3 linked regions of the Homo sapiens genome follow. The protein of the gene in region 2 purifies or fractionates together with the protein of the main gene of each other region. This does not show direct contact. Each region holds a gene or a part of one and is shown on either strand. Other genes may lie near its edges.

Region 1 (7,112 bases), on a different chromosome or scaffold from region 2:
GCGATTCTCCTGCCTCAGCCTCCCGAGTAGCTGGCATTACAGGAATGCAATGCCACGCCCAGCTAATTTTTTGTATTTTTAGTAGCACACAGGGTTTCACCATGTTGGTCAGGCTGGTCTCGAACTCCTGACCTTAGGTGATCCGCCCGCTTCAGCCTCCCAAAGTGCTGGGATTACAGGACTGAGCCACCACGCTCAGCCTAAGCCTCTTTTTCACTACCCTCTAAGCGATCTACCACAGTGATGAGGGGCTAAAGAGCAGTGCAATTTGATTACAATAATGGAAATTAGATTTATTAATTAACAATTTTTCCTTAGCATGTTGGTTCCATAATTATTAAGAGTATGGACTTACTTAGAAATGAGCTTTCATTTTAAGAATTTCATCTTTGACCTTCTCTATTAGTCTGAGCAGTATGACACTATACGTATTTTATTTAACTAACCTACCTTGAGCTATTACTTTTTAAAAGGCTATATACATGAATGTGTATTGTCAACTGTAAAGCCCCACAGTATTTAATTATATCATGATGTCTTTGAGGTTGAACGCATATAGAAATGTCAACTAGTTTGGAGATACTGAGTTGGACTTTAGAAAAGAGGTAGGTCTTTGGACGAGCACGGTGGCTCACGCCTGTAATCCCAGTACTTTGGAGGGCCAAGGCAGGCAGGTCACGGGGTCAAGAGATCGAGACCATCCTGGCCAACATGGTGAAACCCCATCTCTACTAAAAATACAAAAATTAGCCAGGCATAGTGGCACGCGCCTGTAGTCCTAGCTACTCAGGGGGCTGAGGCAGGAGAATCACTTGAACCCAGGAGACGGAGGTTGCAGTGAGCAGAGATGGCGCCACTGCACTCCAGCCTGGCAACAGAGCAAGACTCTGTCTCAAAAAAAAAAAAAAAAAAAAAAAAGGAGGTAGGGCTTTAGGGCTTTAAGATAGATATTTGGCAATCATCCTAAACTTAGACGTTTATTAACTGCAATTATTAGAACAGATAAAATTTCTAAGGAGTGACCAATTGCCCCAATAACATGGAATACATTGCTTTCCATCTAGCATGCACTGAATATGTATTAAATGACTTAACATTTTAAAAACGGAAAATTAATCTCCTGTATTACTATGGTTATATGTGATTAAGATACTTCTGGTTTTGAAAATGAGTACATTAAATGTTTATTAGTTATTTTGTAGAACGTATGAACCCATGAAACTCTGCAGGACGCAGTCCCAACTGCCTAGTCCACTGCCTCTAGACATGTTTGGTTTTTACTTACCATAAGAGAACTGGTTATTACTAACCATTCAAACCGATGAAAATACCCAGAAGTCTCCTTCAGGGTATCTTCAAATGTGTCAACTTCTAATTCAATTGTCTTTTTCCTCCCACAACCAGCATTCATTTTCTTATACAACTGAATAATTTTCTACACCAATTCCTACAATTGAAACAGCACCGTCTTCTACCATTTCCCTTTGCAAGATATATACTAAATTTCAGCTAACATAAAAGTTACAGACTTTTATGAAATAGCCTTGATTCTTAACCACATTTATATCATCATTTATTTAGGTAAAACATTCCAAATTCCAAGTAATTACTTCAAAATGGAATTGTCACACAAAGCCCATTTGTTATTTGACTTGTTCAGTTTTTATGTTTTGTTTAACCTATTTCATAGAGTACTGCTCATGGGACCAGGAAGGTTATTAGTGAGCTAGGATTAAACTTCCATCCACAGATGAACAGCCAAGGTAATGTGGAAAAAATGCTAGATTTCAAATCATGACAGGGTCAAAGTAGATGGAGGTGGGAGAGATAGTACGGAAGTATGAAGTAGAACCAATGCAATAGCCAACTATGCAAAATCAGACACAGAGTGCTACATGACAGACAGAAAGAAAAATGGGTAGTAAAAAGATATTTATATTTTCAGGCATCAAGTTCAAAGGGAGCAAGAGTATGAGGATATGGGATTTGCAGAAACAACTTGTCAAGGGAAATGTTTTGGTCCCTCTCTGTCCCCTATCACTTGGAACTTGAAGAAAGTACATTAAATTGAAAAGCCTAGTTCTGTGCTAGTTCTGTGGCAAGTCTTGTGCTATTCACTATCCTCTCCTACTTCTTTTCAATTACTTATTGTTAGCTCTCAACTTATAGGATTTAGTCTGTTTTTCTCTACTTTTACCCTGTCCTGTATCATGACCCTTTAAGGCCATAATCCTTTATCTTACTGATTTTCTATTCTTTTGCACTAAAAATAGTCTTGCTTCCTATAAACCAAATGCAATATTGTACGCTTCTAAGATGGAGGGACCTCCTGTGAAGTTACAGTGAACTAACATTCAAGTTAGTTATGTTCAGGAACATAACCGAAGACAATAGCTTTCTTCCCAGCCTTCCTGCCTCCATCACTATTAAATTTTCCTCTGAAGCTTTCAAACCTGAACACATGATTTTTTTGAGACTTTTTTCTTAAATTATACTTTAAGTTCTGGGATACATGTGCAGAAAGTGCAGATTTGTTACATAGGTATACACACGCCATGGTGTTTTGCTGCACCCATCAACCCGTCATCTACATACCCGTCATCTACATACCCATCATCTACATAAGTATTTCTCCTAATGCTATCCCTTCCCTAACCCCCAACCCCGACAGGCCCTGGTGTGTGATGTTCCCCTCGCTGTGTCCATGTGAACACGATTTTTAAAAATTCATTGGTTTATTCTGAGTATTCATCATCATACAGTTGTGAAAATAGTTACTATACATAAAGGCTAAAAGAATCGATGGAAATTGACTGTAAATAACATGGATTTCTAAACAGGTTCATTAGAATTTTTCTTTTGATAGAATTCATAGTGTCCAGAGAATATTAGGTTGTAGTATGTGCTCAAGCACAAAAGTATTCTTCAGGTATAGATTAAAAACATAATTAAAGCATTTTCATGTGAGCACTTTAAATATGTTTTTAATTTGTACTTAAGGAATATTTTAAATGAATTACAAACATCTGGCTACTATCTCTTTACAAAACAAATGTTCTGCATCTCAGAGAATTACAAAAACTGGGTTTATGGGCCCAGATACTGTTTTCAATGCAAAGATGGGTAAAATTAGTACTTACCTTTGATACTAAATCAATATTAAATCTCCTGCCTTCTTTAATAATTTGTGAGTAAGTAATTCTGTTTTTCTTTGGTTGCTCTGTGGTATCTTCTGCTATAGGCACATTTTCACTCATGTCTTCTGCTGAAGTTGATGGCACACAAGTTTTATCATCACAATGGTTTTCTTTTTCCCCTGTCACTTCAGCACCATTTACTTCTAGCGCATTCTCTGGATCGCTGCTTGGAGTTTGTTCTGTGAGCATTTCACAGCTCATAGTGCTTAATGACTCATCCTCCGTAGGCAGGAAGGCAGAATCTGCAGCTTCTGTGGAGTTTGCAGATGTCACAAGAGCATGATTTTTCTGCAGTGCACCAGCTTCTTCGACATCTTCATGCAAATCCTGACTAATAAGAAATATAATAATAAACACCAGGCTTTATATATATATTCCCTTACCCCTTTTATCAAGTTCAGTGTACGTTTTGCTTATGTGACTCAGACATTAAACATTCATCTGTTAATGTTTCAGTAAAATATGAAACAAAATTAAGATTTGAAAGATATAAAGATTTCATGTCACATGCACATTTTTGAGAATTTAAGACAGACAGGGGAACTGTATTGGAAGCAAATTACCACAGTGATGAAGAACACAGTCTTCAGAATAACAGATCTTGGTTCAAACCCTGACCATATGACTAGTAAGCTCTGCGAACTTAGATACTTATGTATCCTCTCTGAGACCACCTAAATTACCCTCAATTTAGGTAATTACCTAAATTACCCTCTCTGAGACCACCTAAATTACCCATCTATGACACAGAGATAATACCACCTACCACAAGGTTGTTTTGAAGATTAAATTAAGTACTGCATGCAAAGAGCCTGACACAGTGCCTGGGACATAGTAAATACTCAACAGTGGTAGTTATCAAAGATGATTATTACTGAGGAATTCCTGACTTGGTGATACGACAGAAGACCTTCAATAAAGGGAAAAATATCTGCCTTGAAAAGATTAAGTTGGCCTATCACAATGTGGTATCTAATAGGACCTTTCTGTATAATTTCCTGCCTATTTTAGTACTGATGTCTATTACTCTAGTCGAAGCCCCATTTCCAAATTTATTATTGGAGCTAACATTCTCAGTCCACCATTGTCTTGATTTATAGAACAGGCTCCCATTCAGTCTGCCTGCTTTATGAATTTCTGTGATATTTTATCCTCCACAGAACCCACTATTTTCACTGAGTTGCCACACTGCTCAATACCTGGCAGAATGCCTTGTATGTGATTGGTCTTGGCAAGTAAAAATCTGCTAGTTGACTAACAGTAGCCCTAACAGTAGCCCTTCCTTATATCAAATACCCCACAAAAAAATCTTCCTTTTCCTGTCTCTAAACCAAACCACCTTCCTTATTTACTAATCTTCTGGTTTCATCTCCACCTACTTTCCAACATGGCATCTCTAACTCCGAATTTATCAATTCTAATTGTCAAATCATGACAGTTTGGTTCATATCATTTGTTTCTTCTGTCCTTTTCTTCCCACTCTGCATAATATCACAATTCTTCCATTCTCAAACATAATCACATACTTTAGCAAACTACTTTAAGAAAAAGTTTAAATTTAACTTCCAATTAGTCTTCCTTACTCCAATTACACTCATCACTCTATTATACCATGCTCCCATAATACACATATGCAGTTTACCTTGCATGTATTTATCCATTCCTTTTTAATAGTCCTTTAGTTTTCCAGTATATCCTTTATCTTCCAAATCAGACTGTAATTCCTTGAGGGAATACCTTAGCACCGCTCCTTCTGTGCCCCTCACGACACCTACCACACTGCTCCATAGATGTGGTATCCAATAAATGCTTAATTAATAATGGTTTATACGTGCAGACTATTTTTGTTTCAAATGCGAAACAAACTTGTTGCAAAAAACACAAAAAATAAGGCCAAGAAAAAAACACGGTATTGTAAATTAGAAAGTCCGAGTTAAGTGAAAAAAAGAAGTGCCTTATTAAAAATAACACAATGAACACTACAAAAAAAAATGAGGGACAATGATAGAATAACACTCAAATGTCAAGAAATAAAATGCCATATTTACTGTTATAGTAATTCTAATAAAATCTAGTGAAGAAACAAATTGATATCATTAATGTTACATGAATATTTTTGAGATCTAGGAAACCAAAGTGAGGAAAACACCCACTTTGTTCTATCCTAGATTTATCACTTAGGAAACACTTGGCAAGTCATTTAATCTCTCTGATTCACCACATATAAAATGGGGATCAGTCCATTTGCCTTACCTTTTATGAAACTGTTGTGAGATAAGGAAGCTAACATATATGAAAAGTAGTTTATAAACTCTAAAAGGTTAATCAAAGATAAGATACTAATCAGGCCGGGCACGGTGGCTTACACCTGTAATCCCAGCACTGTGGTAGGCCGAGGTGGGTGGATCACTTGAGGTCAAGAGTTCAAGACCAGCCTGACCAACATGGTGAAACCTAGTCTCTACTAAAATGCAAAAATTAGCTGGGCGTGGTGATGGGCACCTGTAATCTCAGCTACTTGGGAGGCTGAGGCCAGAGAATCACTTGAACCCAGGAGGCGGAGGTAGCAGTGAGCCAAGATCGTCCCATTGCACTCCAGCCTGGGCAACAAGAGCAAAACTCCGTCTAAAAAAAAAAAAAAAAAACTACTCAAAAATAAGATATTGTTAAACTGCCCACAGCTCAACAGTCAACTCAAAACCTGTATACCTAGGTTTTCTGCATTCACATGACAAAAGCCCATTGGCCATATAAGCACATAATAGCATCGCTATTAACAGCATTAAGAATGAAGAGTCATAATATGAAAGGTGATTTATATATTTTCTACAGAATTGTTCACACTCTTATTCACTTTTATTATCTTGAAAACCAACAAAACTAAAGTGTGTTACATGAGGGATCTAAGGGGACAATTTTCAGCAAAAGTTCCACACCTAATTTTTTGTTTTTCAGTAAAAGTTCCATGCCTAACTCTTAAAGCAAAAGTTCCATGCCTTTAATTTTAAGAAAGGATAATTAATTACACTTTACAGATAAGACAAAATATGGCAACTTCTCTTATTACAGACTATGATGATGACACTGTGAAAACTGAGCATAGCAAATGATCTAGTCAGTGGTTCTCTATTACATTCTGTGATGGGGGCCCTATAGAGTGAATGAAATACATTAACCAGTACTGGACAACCTGGAAGATATAAGTCAAAATACTTAATTAAAGGTATAAGCGAAGAGAAGAAATTATTCTTCGGAAATTTTTTCTACATCAATAAACTATCGTTTTACTGTTCTCAACATTATAATTTGGTGAGATTCCTAGCACTACGGAAAACACAAGCAATAAAAACACAACACTGTCCTCACTTTCCATTAAAAACAACCACAGTATTTTTGGAGTTCTGCCAAGGTTGAAGTTAATACCTAATGAGAAAATATAAAGACACCCAAAAGCTCCTAAAACTCCACTGACATCCTCAGAAAGCAAAATTCTGTTCATCTAAAAGGGTTATCTTTCCCCAAATTTAAAACTTTATACTGTGGTAAAAGACATTTTCTTAAAAAGATATTCAACCTTTCAGAGAAAACCTCAGAATCCAGTAATAGTTCAATTCTACTAATTTAAAAGTGTTTGAAAACTATAAAAACACATTTACCAATTACAAAACAATGTAGCTGCATTATAAGCCTTCAAATGAACCTTGGAGTTCTAAGATATTACAATGATTTTAACATACACAGGTGCTCCTCGACTTATGATGGGGTTACGTCCTGATAAACCCAATATAGTAAGACAAAGTGCATTTAATACCCCAATAAAACCATTACAAAGTTGAAAAATCATTAAGTCGAACCATCTTAAGCTGCAGACTGTTTATCTAAAGGAAAACAATCTGCATCATTAGTTCTTATAAA
Region 2 (7,112 bases):
TGAAGTTACAGGTGAGCAGCCCTCCTTTTCCCTCTTCAACATACATACACTGAAAATCCCCCCCAAGCCCGGACAGCCACTCATGTAGCAATGTGAACCAGAGCTAGAATGGTCTAGAGCAGAGATGAGCAAACTTCAGCTCATGGGCCAAATCTGATCCACCTCCTATTTTTGTAAATAAGACTTCACTGGGGCACAGCCATAACCATTGGTTAGCTTATCAAGTTATGCAGTACAATGGCAGAGTTGAGTAATAATTGGCATATAGAGACAGAATGACCTGCAAAGCCTAAAATATTTACTATCTGTTATTTATAGAAAAAAAAATGCTGATGCCTGATCTAGAAGGAAGGACATTAATCCAGGAGTTGAGAGACCCCACGCCTAGTCTCAGGTTCTCTGGAAAACCTGGCAGGTGATCTTAGGCAAGACATTCCCGAGGTCCAAGTTTCCATATCTGTCAGATGGGAATAACAATTGCCACCTTGATGACCCAGAGGAAAAATGAGAGCTCAGATGTGAAATTACTCTCAGGATGTTAAATGTTACCACAAAGGTGCTGGAGTGTATGTGGGTGGGAGGGTCAACGTGCCACGGTGTGAAAGAACCATATGCACCTGTACCAGGGCCTGCTGCTCCCTACCCAGCAAAAGAAGCCTTGACATGATGTAATCCAGCTGGGCCTCCTTCCAGCCATTCATCACAGCCCCATGGGGCAACTGCTTTCCCCTCCAGATCTGGGACACGGGCGGTCAGGAGCGGTTCCGCTCCATGGTGTCCACGTTCTACAAGGGCTCCGATGGCTGCATCCTAGCTTTTGATGTCACCGACCTGGAGTCTTTTGAAGCCCTGGATATCTGGCGGGGTGATGTCCTGGCCAAGATTGTCCCCATGGAGCAGTCCTACCCCATGGTGTTGTTGGGGAACAAGATCGATCTGGCAGACCGGAAGGTACTGTTCGTTCATTTATTCATTCAACAAACATTATATGAGCACCCACTATGTGCCAGGCACAGTGTTAGGTCCCACACATACAGAGCTGAATCAGGCATAGTCCTTACTTCAGGAATTTCACAGTCTAGTAGTAGATACAGACATTTTAAAAGGTAATTATAAAATAAAATGGTAATTATGGTACAATACGGTAAATGAAATAATAGAGATATACCTTGGGCATTAAGGAACCACAATAGAGAGGCATCTACCCAAGCCTAGAATATAGGACAGGTTTGCTGGAAGAGCTGGGTTCTGGGCTGAATAAACAGCATGATATAAGCTGAGAACTAAAGGTAATTTTGTCCAGAGACAGGGAAAGGAGGAGTTAAGGCATCAGATGTAGGCAGGAGGGAGGTCACAGTGGAATTTGAATTAATCTGTGGCACAGCATTTCTGCCTGGGGTCAAGTTGGAGGTCTGCAGTTATAAATTCTTGGATATACAAGTTTTCTGGGGAAGTAATAATTTTTGTATTAGCTTAAGCATATTCCGGACCATCGGGTTAACCACTTGACAGTTGGTCTGCTCCATGACTACAGTGACCCCACTTGTGTAGGCGTTTACCATTACACGGCATTGAGAAGACAGCACTTCTAATCCTTGCCTACTAATGAGGAAAGAATACGGTAGACTGAATTTGTAAAAGATGCTCTTGGGCCAAAAGTCCAGATGCCACCAAAAAGAGCTGTTTAAACCAAGTTTCTCTTTTTAGTGTGATGGGGAACTGGATCATCATGTCTGAATTGCATTTTCACAATGGTTCAAATAGAGAAAAGCAATGGAAATGAGGCATCATTTGGCATGATAAAGTGTGTTTATGGAAGGAGAAAGGGAGAGAGGGATGGTGCTTCCAACTGAGCTAACATCTACAGAAGAGAGCCTCTGGTTCATAAAGACACATTTTTGGTTTGGACATGGCGAGTTTGAGGAGCTTGTACAGCTAGTTGGAAATGGCCAGCAGGCTTTGGAATGCGTAAGAATGAAATTTCAAAGGAGAAGTCTGTGCTGGAAATAGAGATCTACGAGTCATCGGTTCTGTGGTCACTTCAGGTTGTAAACTCCATGTCAATTCTCTAATTACAAATATCCAGCCTCAGATAATAAGCAAAGTCCTAAGTTCATTCAAAGGCAAGGTGTCTCCATTTTTTCCCCCACTGGGACCAGCTGTGGGTGAGAACCTTGTGGTCTAAGAGAGGGAATAGGTCCTTAGAATCTCACTGCCAACCTTGAGGTCCACACTTCCTCCTCTTATCTGGGATAGTAATTCTGGTTTCAGACCCTGTCAGGAGTGAAGCAGGAAGAGGGAGAAGAGGTCAGGAGAGCAGAGCAATTCTAATTTGGCTTGTACTATCATAAGACAGTCTTGGCCGGGCACAGTGGCTCACGCCTGTAATCCCAGCACTTTGGGAGGCAGAGGCAGGCGAATCATGAGGTCTGGAGTTCGAGACCAGACTGGCCAACATGGTGAAACCCCGCCTCTACTAAAAATACGTGGTGGTGGGCATCTGTAATCCCAGCTACTCAGGAGGATGAGGCAGGAGAATCGCTTGAACCTGGGAGGCGGAAGTTGCAGTGAGCCGCGATCGCACCACTGCACTCCAGCCTGGGCAACAATGCGAGACTTCATCTCAAAAAAAAAAAAAAGAAAGAAAGAAAAAGACAGTCTTGCACTCTCTGGCCTGAGAGGTGTTGCAAGCCCTTTCTTCTGTGGGTCACTCCTGTGGGTCCTTCGGAAGCCTCCACTGGGAACATTTCGCTGTACCTCCCATGACAAGGGTCTTGCATTCTCCTCCTCAACCCCTGGCTTTCAGCATCCCCACCCCATGGGGGTCACCTTTTCCTCCAAGCAGTCTTTAAGTGGGATTTAGCCAGCCCCAGCCTGTTGCTCTCTCTCTCTCTCTCTGTTGAATCCACATGTCCTTCACAAGGCACACTCATGCATTCTGGCTCCACTGGGGGACAAGGGTAGCTGGTGCCCAGTGCAGCCTCTTCTCTCTCTGCCCCGTTGACTGTTGCCTCAGATACCTCAGGTGTGTGTCAGACACCAGTCCACCATGTCCACCAAACTCCAGGGGTTGTACATTAACGACTCTCCTCAATACCATCTTTTAGCTAGAGATGAGTCCTTAACTGTTCCTCCTCTTGGGAGAGGCAAGGGTAGTTGTGCCCACAACACAACTCTCTCCAAGGAAATCCCTCCTAATCCTCATTTTCAAGCGCTTTATATCCACGCTGTGGGATTTAGAGTCATCCAAGAGAGTCTTGATCATGAGCCTTTGGGAATATGTATCCAGGGTAGACTGTCTCCACCTGCTTTATATCTGACATCTGTCCAGTTGTTGCGCCTCTGCCAAAACTTTCATTTTAACTTCCATCTTGTTTCATGTCTGTAGGGTGTGGGGAGGGAAGCTGGGGGAGTTCAAGACCGAGAGTCAGTGAAATAAGTGGTGCCATCTTCTGTTGAGAGGGAGGAAACCAATACGAGGCTTAAGAAACATGAGGAAGCTTTGCCAGTTACTCTTGGGAGAAGTGGGAGGAGGAGCTACTTGGGGACAAGGACAAGTTCTGATGGGTGACACCAAGGACTCCGCTGAAGGAGGAGACTGGGAGTTTGAGGTGGGGTCTCCGTAGGGTACCAGCCAGGAGCAAGGAACTTGGACTAGGGCTTTTCCAACCAAGAGAAGATGAAGGACAGAGCTGCGAGGGCACCAAGAAACCACGAAGGAAAGAAGAGGGACCAGGGGAGGCAGAAGGGCCAGGGCTGGGGTGGCGGAGGCTGGGGAACAGGGCAGCAGGAGGAAGGGCCTGAGGGGGTTGAGGGAAAGGAGATCGGGGCACAGGAGACCAGGTTTCTTATTTTACAGAGGCCCTGAGAGGAAGAGGCTGACATGGAGAGATTGAGGGCAGCAAAGGATTTCTGAGGCTACCATGAGAGGTGGCGGCTGCGTATAGAGGGGTTAGGAGGCCTCACCAGATGGCAAGTGTTTAGTGAATGAGGGGCACCTGGCAAGGTGAGGAGGGCGGGTGGTGACTCGCGGGAGTAGAGGGGGTCCAATCCAAGCCCCAGGGTGGGTGATCTTTGGTGTCCAGAGAGAGGAAGAACAAAGGTTTGAAAGAGGCAATGAGGCACCAGGCAAGCCAGCCCCCTCTCTGGGATCTGTGGTGAGTAAAGTCTGCAAATAGCCCCAGTGGGGAAGGCAAGAGGGGGCGCTGGGGAAGCGTGACTCTAGGAAAAGCCAGGGTTCAGCCAGACAGGGAGGTCCCTGGAGAGGATGGAGGAGGGGTGAGGAGAGGATGGAGGAGAGGATGGAGGAGAGGGGAGCCTGTCTCTCAACAAGGTAGGCCCAGGGAAGGGGTTTGTAGGGAGGTGGAATAGGATAGGGGAGGGGAGGAGGCACTGAGCGACAGTGAAATCAGGACAGGACGTGGAGAGGATGAGGTGTGTGGGAGAGAGCAGAAGGGCTTTAATTCTGAGACCTGGGATTATAAAGCCCCAAGAGGGGAGGCTGGGAAGTGCCGGCCCTCAAATGTCCTTACTCTGCACAGACCTAGCAAGGGCTCTGCCTGCCCCTGGCCGGGTGTGGACATGGAGAAGGGGAGCCAAGAGGTACGTTCTTGTGAGGCGCCTTCTCCTCGGAGCCCGTCCCGCAGATGTGGACTCACAGCCGCCCACCTGGTCCATGTGCCTCCGCAGCCTGGACCGGTTCCCTCCTCTGCGGGGCGGAGACCAGAACACAGACTTCCTGAGACTGAGTAATAATAGGAAGGATGTGATTTCCATAATGGAAATAATGGAACAAGGAAATGATCCTCCTTATTATTATCTCCAAGGGACAGCTGGGAAAATACAGCAGCTTCTCCTACCTAATAAGAAGAAAATGAGTATATAAAAATGTACTGCAGTTTGGCCCAGTGGCTCACGCCTGTAATCCCAACACCTTGGGAGACCAAAGTCGGGGGATAGCTTGAGCCCAGGAGTTCGAGACCATCCTGGGCAACATGTCAAGACCCCATCTCTACAAAAGAAAAAAATTTTTTTTAATTAGCCAGGTGTGGTGGCACACCTGTAGTCTGAACTACTCGGAAGGCTGAGCTGGGAGGATCGCTTGAACACGGGAGGGAGAGGCTGCAGTGAGCCAAGATCACACCACTGTGCTCCAGCCTGGGCGACAGAGCAAGACACTAAAAGAAAAAAAAAAAAAAAACCCACACACACATACATACATCATATATACACACATATACATACATATATATACACACATATTTATAATATATATTGCTAGTTTAGGAAGGTGAGAAAATTCTGAAGATGAATAGCAAGGAATGTACAATGTGAATACAATATGAATGTACCGAATGCCCATGAACTGTATGCTTAAAAATGGTTACAATGAGCCAGGTACATTTTATCTGTAATCCCAGCACTATGGGAGGCTGAGGTGGGAGAATCACTTGAGGTCAGGAGTTCAAGACCAACCTGGGCAGCATAGTGAGACCCCCATCTCTCCAAAAACAAAACAAAACAAAAATTTTTTTAAAAAGTGTTTAATTTAAAAATGGTAAATTTTATTAGGTATATTTACCACAGTAAAAACAGGCATATATAGCCAGAATAATTTTAAAGAAATTACTGATTTAGTTTAAAAAAAAATCCCTGTTCCTTCTACAGAAGGTAATATTGAAAAAAAATAGTTTATTAGAAAGAATAGCTTTGCTGGCATCTATGCTACAAGGAATTTATTCACTGGGGCATGAATTATTTGCTCTGTGCTCAGGTGGGTAATTTCTGATTTGCCAGTGATTCCGTAGACTTAAGATCATGTTTTCTAAAAATATCCTTTGTTATTCTTAGTGATGGTTTAATGGTTTAGTAATTAACGTTAGTAATACTAATTTTAGCACTTGTATAATTGATTATTTTAAAAGCACATGAGATGGAAAAGCATCATAAATAAAATGATGCCAACTGGACTAATTTTGTCAAATGTTTGGCCTCCAATGAACAAGTAAAATTGCAACCAGAAAAGTGAAATGTCAGTAGTATATTGTTGACCAAAAGCAACATTAATGCAAGTAACACTTTCAGAATTATCATACTTCCCATGTCCCCAACTATCACACCCTGAGCTTATTTTCAGAGTCAGAGCCTAAGTTATAAATAATTTTCATTTTATAAACAAAAGATGAGACAATTTTAAAAATCATGAAACTGTCTCTGGGATTGGAAGAGAAAAGTGAAAAATACTGTCTGGGTAGCTTTCTTCCCAGGCCAGCTTTCTGAGGTTGGGGTGGGGAGGAGGGGGAGATATAAAAAGAATGTTAATTTGCAACATAATCACAATGATATTTCAGAGTCTGTATGCAATCATTCCAAACCAAACAGAGAGCAGGGAAAAATGAGATTAAAAAGTCTGTCATAACCGGGCACTTGGGTAGATCTGGTCATGGTAAGTCAGAGGAAAGGGTCTGCTGAGATCAGCTGGGACTTTTTATCCCAGTAAGACAGACATTCCCAGGACCTGCAGGAGCCACAGAGACAATTAAACAGGGGCAGTGTTTGATTTGCCTCGGCCTGCACTGTGTTCTGGGAGAGGGGTGGAATGGTCCTTTCTCCATGAGAAAGACCTTGGCTCCCCTAAATAAACTGAAATAATGATTATAAAGTACCAGGCTCAGCAAATGCTCAGTATGTGGTCATTTCCCCTTCCCCAAATAATTAGACATCAAACTCAGGGGTACCAATTGTCTTTGGAAGTAACCCAGAGGGCTTCCAGAGCATTTCCAAGCCAACATCACAAATTGAACGCCGTTTGCACTTGGGTGGAGATGTAGTCATTCAGCCTGTGCCTGGTGGCTCATGTGTGCCAGACCAGGAGCTGAGCTCCTGACCCTGAGCTCCCGAAGGGAGACAGAAAAGGAGAGGCATGGTTCTTATGCAGTGCCCTGTAGAGGGCAGCTCAGATGCCAGGGGGAGCACTGAGCTGGGGCTACATCCAAGCTCTGCCTTCTCTCAGCTATGTGATCTGGGGCAAGTTGCTGAACCTCTCTGAACCTCAGTGTTTTTGTCTATAAAGTGGAACTGATAATGCCTATCTCACAGGGTCATGGAGAGGA
Region 3 (7,112 bases), on a different chromosome or scaffold from region 2:
TTTTGATGCTCAAGACTGTACTGTAAATATATACCTGTATATAAATCAGGAGAACTAATAAGCACAAAACATTTTGCTAAGTTTTCTGAAGAGACCAGCATGTTAAATCATTGGGGATATTTATTAAAGTTTGAAGGTCTGATGCAGTCTGATTGCAGTGAGGACTTAAATTTATGCTGTCATAGAGACTATTGACTAATCCTCAAATAAATATAATTAACTTCGATGTGTTTTTTTGAATGAAAATATATATAGTGTCATTCTTTATTTGTGCTGTGTGTATGCCCAACTAACAGCTGTGAAGTATGTACAAACTTTTCATTTATCCAATATGAGTGTTTTGGAATTTTAACCTAAACACTCCTATTTTTTTTTTTTTTTTTGAGATGGAGTCTCACTCTGTCGCCAGGGCTGGAGTGCAGTGGCGTGATCTTGGCTCACTGCAACCTCCGCCTCCCGAGTTCATGTGATTCTCCTGCTGCAGCCTCTTGAGTAGCTGGGATTACAGGCGCCCGCCACTATGCCCAGCTAAATTTTTGTATTTTTAGTAGAGATGGGGTTTCACCATGTTGGCCAGGCTGGTCTTGAACTCCTGACCTTGTGATTTGCCCGCCTTGGCCTCCCAGAGTGCTGGGATTACAGGCATGAGCCACCGTGCCCGGACACACACTCCTATTTTTAAACCTCACACTTTGAATTTAAAAAAGAAAAAAGGTTACCCTGCCGTAATTAACACACTACTTATTTTTTCAGGCATGTGGGCACATTCCATGACAGTACAGGATTATCAGGATCTCATAGACCGAGGATGGCGAAGGTAAAGCTTCCAGATACAAAGAGACTTCCTACTGTTACTCAGGTTCTTGAAAAATACAGCATGCCTTTGAAATGCTTTCCTGTTGGAAAGAGGTTTAAGAAAAATTTTTATTATATTCTTTTATGTAGTGATTTTTTGTCTCCTTTTTAAAAAACTTTGTTAGGAAAATGTCAAATATCTATAAAAGCAGAGAGTACATTAGAATGAACCTCAAGTACCTATCACTAAGCTTCAGCAGTTATTAACGTTCTGCCAATCATGTTTGATTCTCCTGCTCCACCTTTTAATATTTAACAGCAAATTACATCAGTAGGTTATTATGACATTTATCCTATCAATAGATAGGCAATAAGTATGTATCTCTAAGAGAGAGGTCTTTTTTTCTTTTTAACTTATCCACAATGCTGTATCACACCTTACAAAATTAATAAAAATTCTTTGATGTTACCTGTTACCTACTTTTTATTAGATTTTCCAGATTGTCTCAAAAATGTCTTCTTTAACAGTTTATTTGGATAAGGATTTCCTTAAAGTCCACACATGGCCTGTTTTGAGTAGTTATTTTTATGTGGATGATTTTTAAGTAACTCTTAGGTAAAGTTCCTTGTGTAAATATAAGTAATATTAAATACTGTACGCTAATACTTGCCAAAGACGTGGGATTGGGAGCACCAGCTGAAATATCACAACTTTCCTTAAACTTAATGAGATTCAAAAGGTAGACATAGGTCAGATTTTAAAGGACTTCACATGCCATGATAAGGAACTTTTTTTTTTAGAGACATGGTCTCGCTCTGTTGCCCAGGCTAGAGTCGCTCTCTTGCCCAGGCTAGAGTACAGTGCCATCATCATAGCTCACTGTAACCCCAAATTCCCACACTCAAGTGATCCTCTTGCCTCAGCCTCTGCAGTGGCTAGGACTACAGGTGTGCATCACAACACCTGGCTAATTTTTCAGTTTTTTGTAAGATCTTGGCTATGTTGCCCGTGCTGGTCTCGAACATCTGGTTGCAAGTGTTCTTCCAGCTTAGCTTTTCAAAGTGTTGGGATTATAGGTATGAACCACCATGCCTGGCCAGAACTTTTTAGAAGGCAGTCATGGAAGGATTTTATGGTAAGAGAGAAATGTGAAGGAATTTGTTTTAGAAAAGATTGTTCAGATGGCTGAGAGGTATTTGAGGGGGGGTCATAGAGGCAGGAAGATGAGTTCAAAGGTTATTGCGCTATCCAGATGTGCGATGATGAGGACTGTCACCTTAGTGGCAATGGTGATAGAGAAGAGGGGACAATTTAGGATAGGGTTTAAAATGAAGGAAAGCTTGCTAATAGGATATAGAGGTGAATTCCAGGGAGGAGTTTAAAATGACTCCCAGGTCTCTGACTTGAGAACAGAATGAACAGTTCTGTTAGTACCATAGACCTGGAATGCATGGAAAGAAGCGGGTTAGTTTTGGGGTACTCCGTGCTGGTGCATGTGGAATACCCAAGTGTGGTTGTCACAGGCATCACATACATGAGTCCCACAGCATCGTGGGCATTTCTCTCATTGCCCTTGTGGTATTGGGGATTGGTGGCAGGTGAAGGCAGAGCAGGGGTGGCAGATGCTGGTGAGAGGGGAACTGAGATGATTGGCCGTGGGGTACACAAGTAAAGCTTTAGGAAATAAAAGGCAGGGTTCTAAACTTTGCTACACGCACTTTGAAGATTATTTGGCTTATGAAGAGTAATTAAACCTACATGCATTTCTACAATGTTGATTAGATTTTTAACCTTAATTTAATGCTCCTGTGCTAGGCTGTTTTGGTGCAAGTGAAAAATATATAAGACATTAACAAACTATTTTTATAATTTTAGAAGTGGAAAATATGTGTACAAACCTGTCATGAATCAAACATGTTGTCCTCAGTACACAATAAGGTAAGAATTTTAATTAGTAGAAAGAGGATTTATAGTATGAAGATTGTGTATAATATTTTAGTAGTCTCTTGTGCTTTTTTAATGTTTATTTCCGCTCTAGGTAGATGTCCTTTAAAAGGAAAAGTAAATGAGTTATGTCTTTTCTTCATACTGATGCTGTATTTATGTGCTGATCAGTAGGTTTTAGTAATATTGTTTGATTGGTTCAGATATAAATATGTGAAAAAAATACCCTCTTAATTTAGCAATCTTGTCAATGAATGCCATGAAATATTGGGAAAATGTTGGTAAATATTCACATTACTTTTGGATATTAAATATTATAGGACTTAGCTTAGAATTTTCTGCATTCTGGTGTATTGCTTGACACAGTGCTTGTGTTCAAGCAATGCTACAGGCTCCTATAAATTACTTGGTAGGTTCACGTTCTCATGTTGTGGGATTCAGGAGGACAAGAGAGACCTCGGGTTAAAACAGGAGAAACTTTATTGAGTGCACTTAGGCCCAGCTGACTCAACGTCTAAAAGACTGGGCCCGGAACAAAGACTTTTATACACAGTTCACAGAAGGGGGTGGGCTAGCTTGAAGCAAGCTTACAGTGGCGTGAAAGCAGGGATACAGAGGCAGGACAAACTCAGGATTGCACATGACCGTTGCCAAGCAACCCAGATGTCCGTTATCTAGGTTTGCCTGGGCTTATCCCATAATCTTCACTATGGTGCCCAGGCAGCTGCAGTTCAGGCCTACTCAGGCTTCTCATGACATTCATTGTACTTCTCAGATAAAACAATACTTGAAGTCACTAGTTACAGAGAACAGGAATCTATGAACTCATTCCGTAAAACAAAGGAAAATTTATTTTTTCTTCTCTGCATGTTGAGTGCTGGGAGAATCTCCAGAGCACACTAGATAATATTATCAAGGCTTTTCCTGGGTCTGGGCCGTGCCTGTTGCTGCCTCTGGGACAAGTCGGCCTAATACAGGAAAGCTTATTTATCTTTCTTTTTAATTTTATTTTTCTTTAATTTCCCACCTCACTCACTTATAAGTGGGAGCTAAACCTTGGGTACTCAGACATAAAGATGGCAAAAGTAGAAGCTGGAGACTACTAGAGGAGGAGGGAGGGCGTGAGCTAAGGGTTGAAAAACCAACTTGGTATGACGATCAGTACCTGGGTGGTGGGATCATCCATATTGCAAACCTCAGCATCATGCAATATATCCAGGTCACCAGCCTGTACCTATACCCCCTGAATCTAAAATAAAAGTTGAAAAAAAAATTAATTGGAAGGAAGAGGGCTTAAATTTAATCTGCCACTTACACTTAGAGTCCAGTTTTTTTTTTTTTTTTTTAAAGAGACGGAGTCTCGCACTGTCGCCTGGGCTGGAGTGCAATGGCGCGATCTCGGCTCACTGCAACCTCTGCCTCCTGGGTTCAAGTGATTCTCCTGCCTCAGCCTCCCGAGTAGCTGGGATTACAGGTGCCTGCCACCACGCCCGGCTAATTTTTTGTATTTTTAGTAGAGATGGGGTTTCACTATGTTGGCCAGGCTGGTCTTGAACTCCTGACCTCATGATCCACCTGCCTCAGCCTCCCAAAGTGCTGATATTACAGGCGTGAGCCACTGCACCTGGCCCAGAGTCCAGTTTTCTTAAATGGGAAACTTAAACCAAAGTCTATTTTCCTACAAAGTCTTCGTTGGATTTTTTCATAATCTTTTGGATTTTCCATGTACCTTCTCACCTCACCCTAACATAGAAAAATCTTCTCTCTTATTCTGGTTATAAGGTCATCATCATCTTTTTCTTCTTTTTTCTTTTTTTTTTTGAGACAGGGTCTTGCTCAGGCTGGAATGCAGTAGCACAACCATGGCTCACTGCAGCCTGCCTGCCAGGCTCAAGTAATCCTCCCACCTCAGCCTCCCAAGTAGCTGGGACTGTAGGTACACACCACCAGGCCTGGCAAATTACATTTTTTTTTATAGAAAAGGGGTCTTGCCATGTTTCCTAGGCAGATCTCACCATGTTTCCTAGGCTGATCTCGCCATGTTTCCTAGGCTGATCTCCAACTTCTAGGCTCAAAGGAGCCTCCTGCCTCAGCCTCCCAAAGTGCTGGGATTATAGGTGTGAGCTACTACTGCACCTGAACCTTTTTTTTTGATAGAAAATGTGAAAAGTGCGTTAACATTTTGAAGCATGTATTTGCCCCCAATTTCAATGTGTATATATACTCATAAAATTAAAAGACAGTTTTACTTTAAGAAATGAAAAATTAAAAAATTAAACAGTTTTTTGTCCATTAGTTTTTTTGTTTGGTCCTCAAAGCTGTCTCCCTTGGTTGCTCTTAACTTGTTTTTGGGTTGCAAACCATTTTGAGAAGTCGATGAGAGCTGGCCTCCTGCCCAAAGGGATGTAGACAAAAATATGTAACATTTTGCATATCCTCCCCACCGAGACTGAGTCTTGCTGTGTCACCCAGGCTGGAGTGCAGTGGTGTGATCTCAGCTCACTGCAGTGTCCGCCTCCTGGGTTCTAGCAGTGCTCTTGCCTTAGCCACCTGAGTATCCGGGACTACAGATGCCCACCGCTAGGCCTGGTTAATTTTTGTGTTTTTAGTAGAGACGGGGTTTCACCATGTTGGCCGCGCTACTCTCGAACTCGTGATCTACCCACCTCAAAGTGCTGGGATTTCAGGCGTGAGCCACCATGCCCAGCACATTTTGCGTGTTAATTTTAGAATGATCGCAGACTCCCAAAGGTTCACTGATACTTGATTAGGAGCTTTTTTTTTGAGATGGAGTCTTGCTGTCGCCCAGGCTGGAGTGCAGTGGTGCTATCTCGGCTCACTGCAACCTCTGCCTCCCGTGTTCAAGCGATTCTCCTGCCTCAGCCTCCCGACTAGCTGGGATTACAGGCGTGCACCACCACACCTGGCTAATTTTTTTGATATTTTTAGTAGAGATGGGTTTCACCATGTTGGCCAAGCTGGTCTCGAACTCCTGACCTCAGGTGATCTGCCCGCTTCAGCCCCCCAAAGTGCTGGTGTATCTGGAGTTGGTTCCTTCTGGTGGGTTCTTGGTCTCGCTCACTTCAAGAATGAAGCCGCAGACCTTCGCAGTGAGTGTTACAGCTCTTAAATGTGACGCAGACCCAAAGAATGAGCAGCAGCAAGATTTATTGTGAAGTGTGAAAGAACAAACCTTCCACAGTGTGGAAGGGGACCCTAGTGGGTTGCCACTGCTGGGTAGGGTGGCCAGCTTTTATTCCCTTATTTGTCCCTGCCCATGTCCTGCTGATTGGTCCATTTTACAGAGTGCTGATTGGTCCATTTTATAGAGTGCTGATTGGTCCATTTTATAGAGTGCTGATTGGTCCATTTTACAAACCTCTAGCCACAGAGCACTGATTGGTGCGTTTTACAATCCTCTAGCTAGCTACAGAGCGCCGATTGGGGCGTTTTACAATCCTAGCTACAGAGAGCTGATTGGTGCATTTTACAATCCTCTTGTAAGAAAAGTTCTTCACGTCCCCCCCACCCCCGCCCCGACCCAGAAGTCCAGCTGGCCGTTGGATTGGCAGAGGATGAGAAAAATGGGGTCTGGTTTGCTGACACTGTGTCATTACACAAAGAATAGAATGACAGAGTATCCTGTGCTGTCCTCTTTCAGTTTTCGTGGTTATAAAGAGAAGGTATCTTCTAAGGCAGAAGTCATTTGTCTTCAATTAGCAATTTATTGGATTATGGACAGGATTCTATTCATAAGTTTGAAGTTGATTGGCTTAATCTGTGATCAGAAAAGGGTGATTTCGATTGGTTAAAGAAAAAAGAATCTAAATTGTATTTGGTGCCTGTTACATGGAAAGCACTATTCTAAGCATATTGCCTTTATAAAAGGGGATTCATTAACATTGCAAAATAAAGTAGTTATGTGATTTTTGCATTTTACGTGGCATCAAATGTTTCCTGAATTGCGTCTCTTTGTAATTCATTATACATCATCTTTTTTTTTTTTTTTTGAGACAGAATCTTGTTTAGTCTCCCAGGCTGGAGTGCAGTGGCGCGATCTCTGCTCACTGAAACCTCCGCCTCCCAGGTTCAAGTGATTCTTCTGCCTCAGCCTCCTGAGTAGCTGGGACTACAGGCGCATGCCACCATGCCCTGCTAATTTTTGTATTTTTAGTAGAGACGGGGTTTCACCATATTGGCCAGGTTGGTCTGGAACTCCTGACCTCATGATCCGCCTGCCTTGGCCTCCCAAAGTGCTGGGATTACAGGCGTTGAGCCACTGGGCCCAGCCACATCATCTTTTTATGGAGTCATTTTCCATATTTACTCTTCTGGTTATTTTTACCTTGTATATAACAGCAGTTGCAATGAG

The links.
Region 1: the proteins of RAB7B (region 2) and CHM purify together in Homo sapiens (affinity purification with mass spectrometry; 2 studies listed by BioGRID and IntAct, with this or other methods). This does not show direct contact.
Region 3: the proteins of RAB7B (region 2) and ATE1 purify together in Homo sapiens (affinity purification with mass spectrometry; 2 studies listed by BioGRID and IntAct, with this or other methods). This does not show direct contact.

The regions. Positions count from the first base shown.
Region 1 is NC_000023.11:85,960,525-85,967,636, forward strand, and holds part of CHM (rab proteins geranylgeranyltransferase component A 1), read right to left. Parts: intron 3,529-7,112; coding exon 3,141-3,528; intron 1-3,140. UniProt on the Homo sapiens protein: Substrate-binding subunit of the Rab geranylgeranyltransferase (GGTase) complex.
Region 2 is NC_000001.11:205,986,319-205,993,430, reverse strand, and holds part of RAB7B (ras-related protein Rab-7b), read left to right. Parts: coding exon 1-11; intron 12-735; coding exon 736-951; intron 952-7,112. UniProt on the Homo sapiens protein: Controls vesicular trafficking from endosomes to the trans-Golgi network (TGN). Acts as a negative regulator of TLR9 signaling and can suppress TLR9-triggered TNFA, IL6, and IFNB production in macrophages by promoting TLR9 lysosomal degradation.
Region 3 is NC_000010.11:121,917,971-121,925,082, reverse strand, and holds part of ATE1 (arginyl-tRNA--protein transferase 1), read left to right. Parts: intron 1-753; coding exon 754-817; intron 818-2,671; coding exon 2,672-2,734; intron 2,735-7,112. UniProt on the Homo sapiens protein: Involved in the post-translational conjugation of arginine to the N-terminal aspartate or glutamate of a protein. This arginylation is required for degradation of the protein via the ubiquitin pathway. Does not arginylate cysteine residues.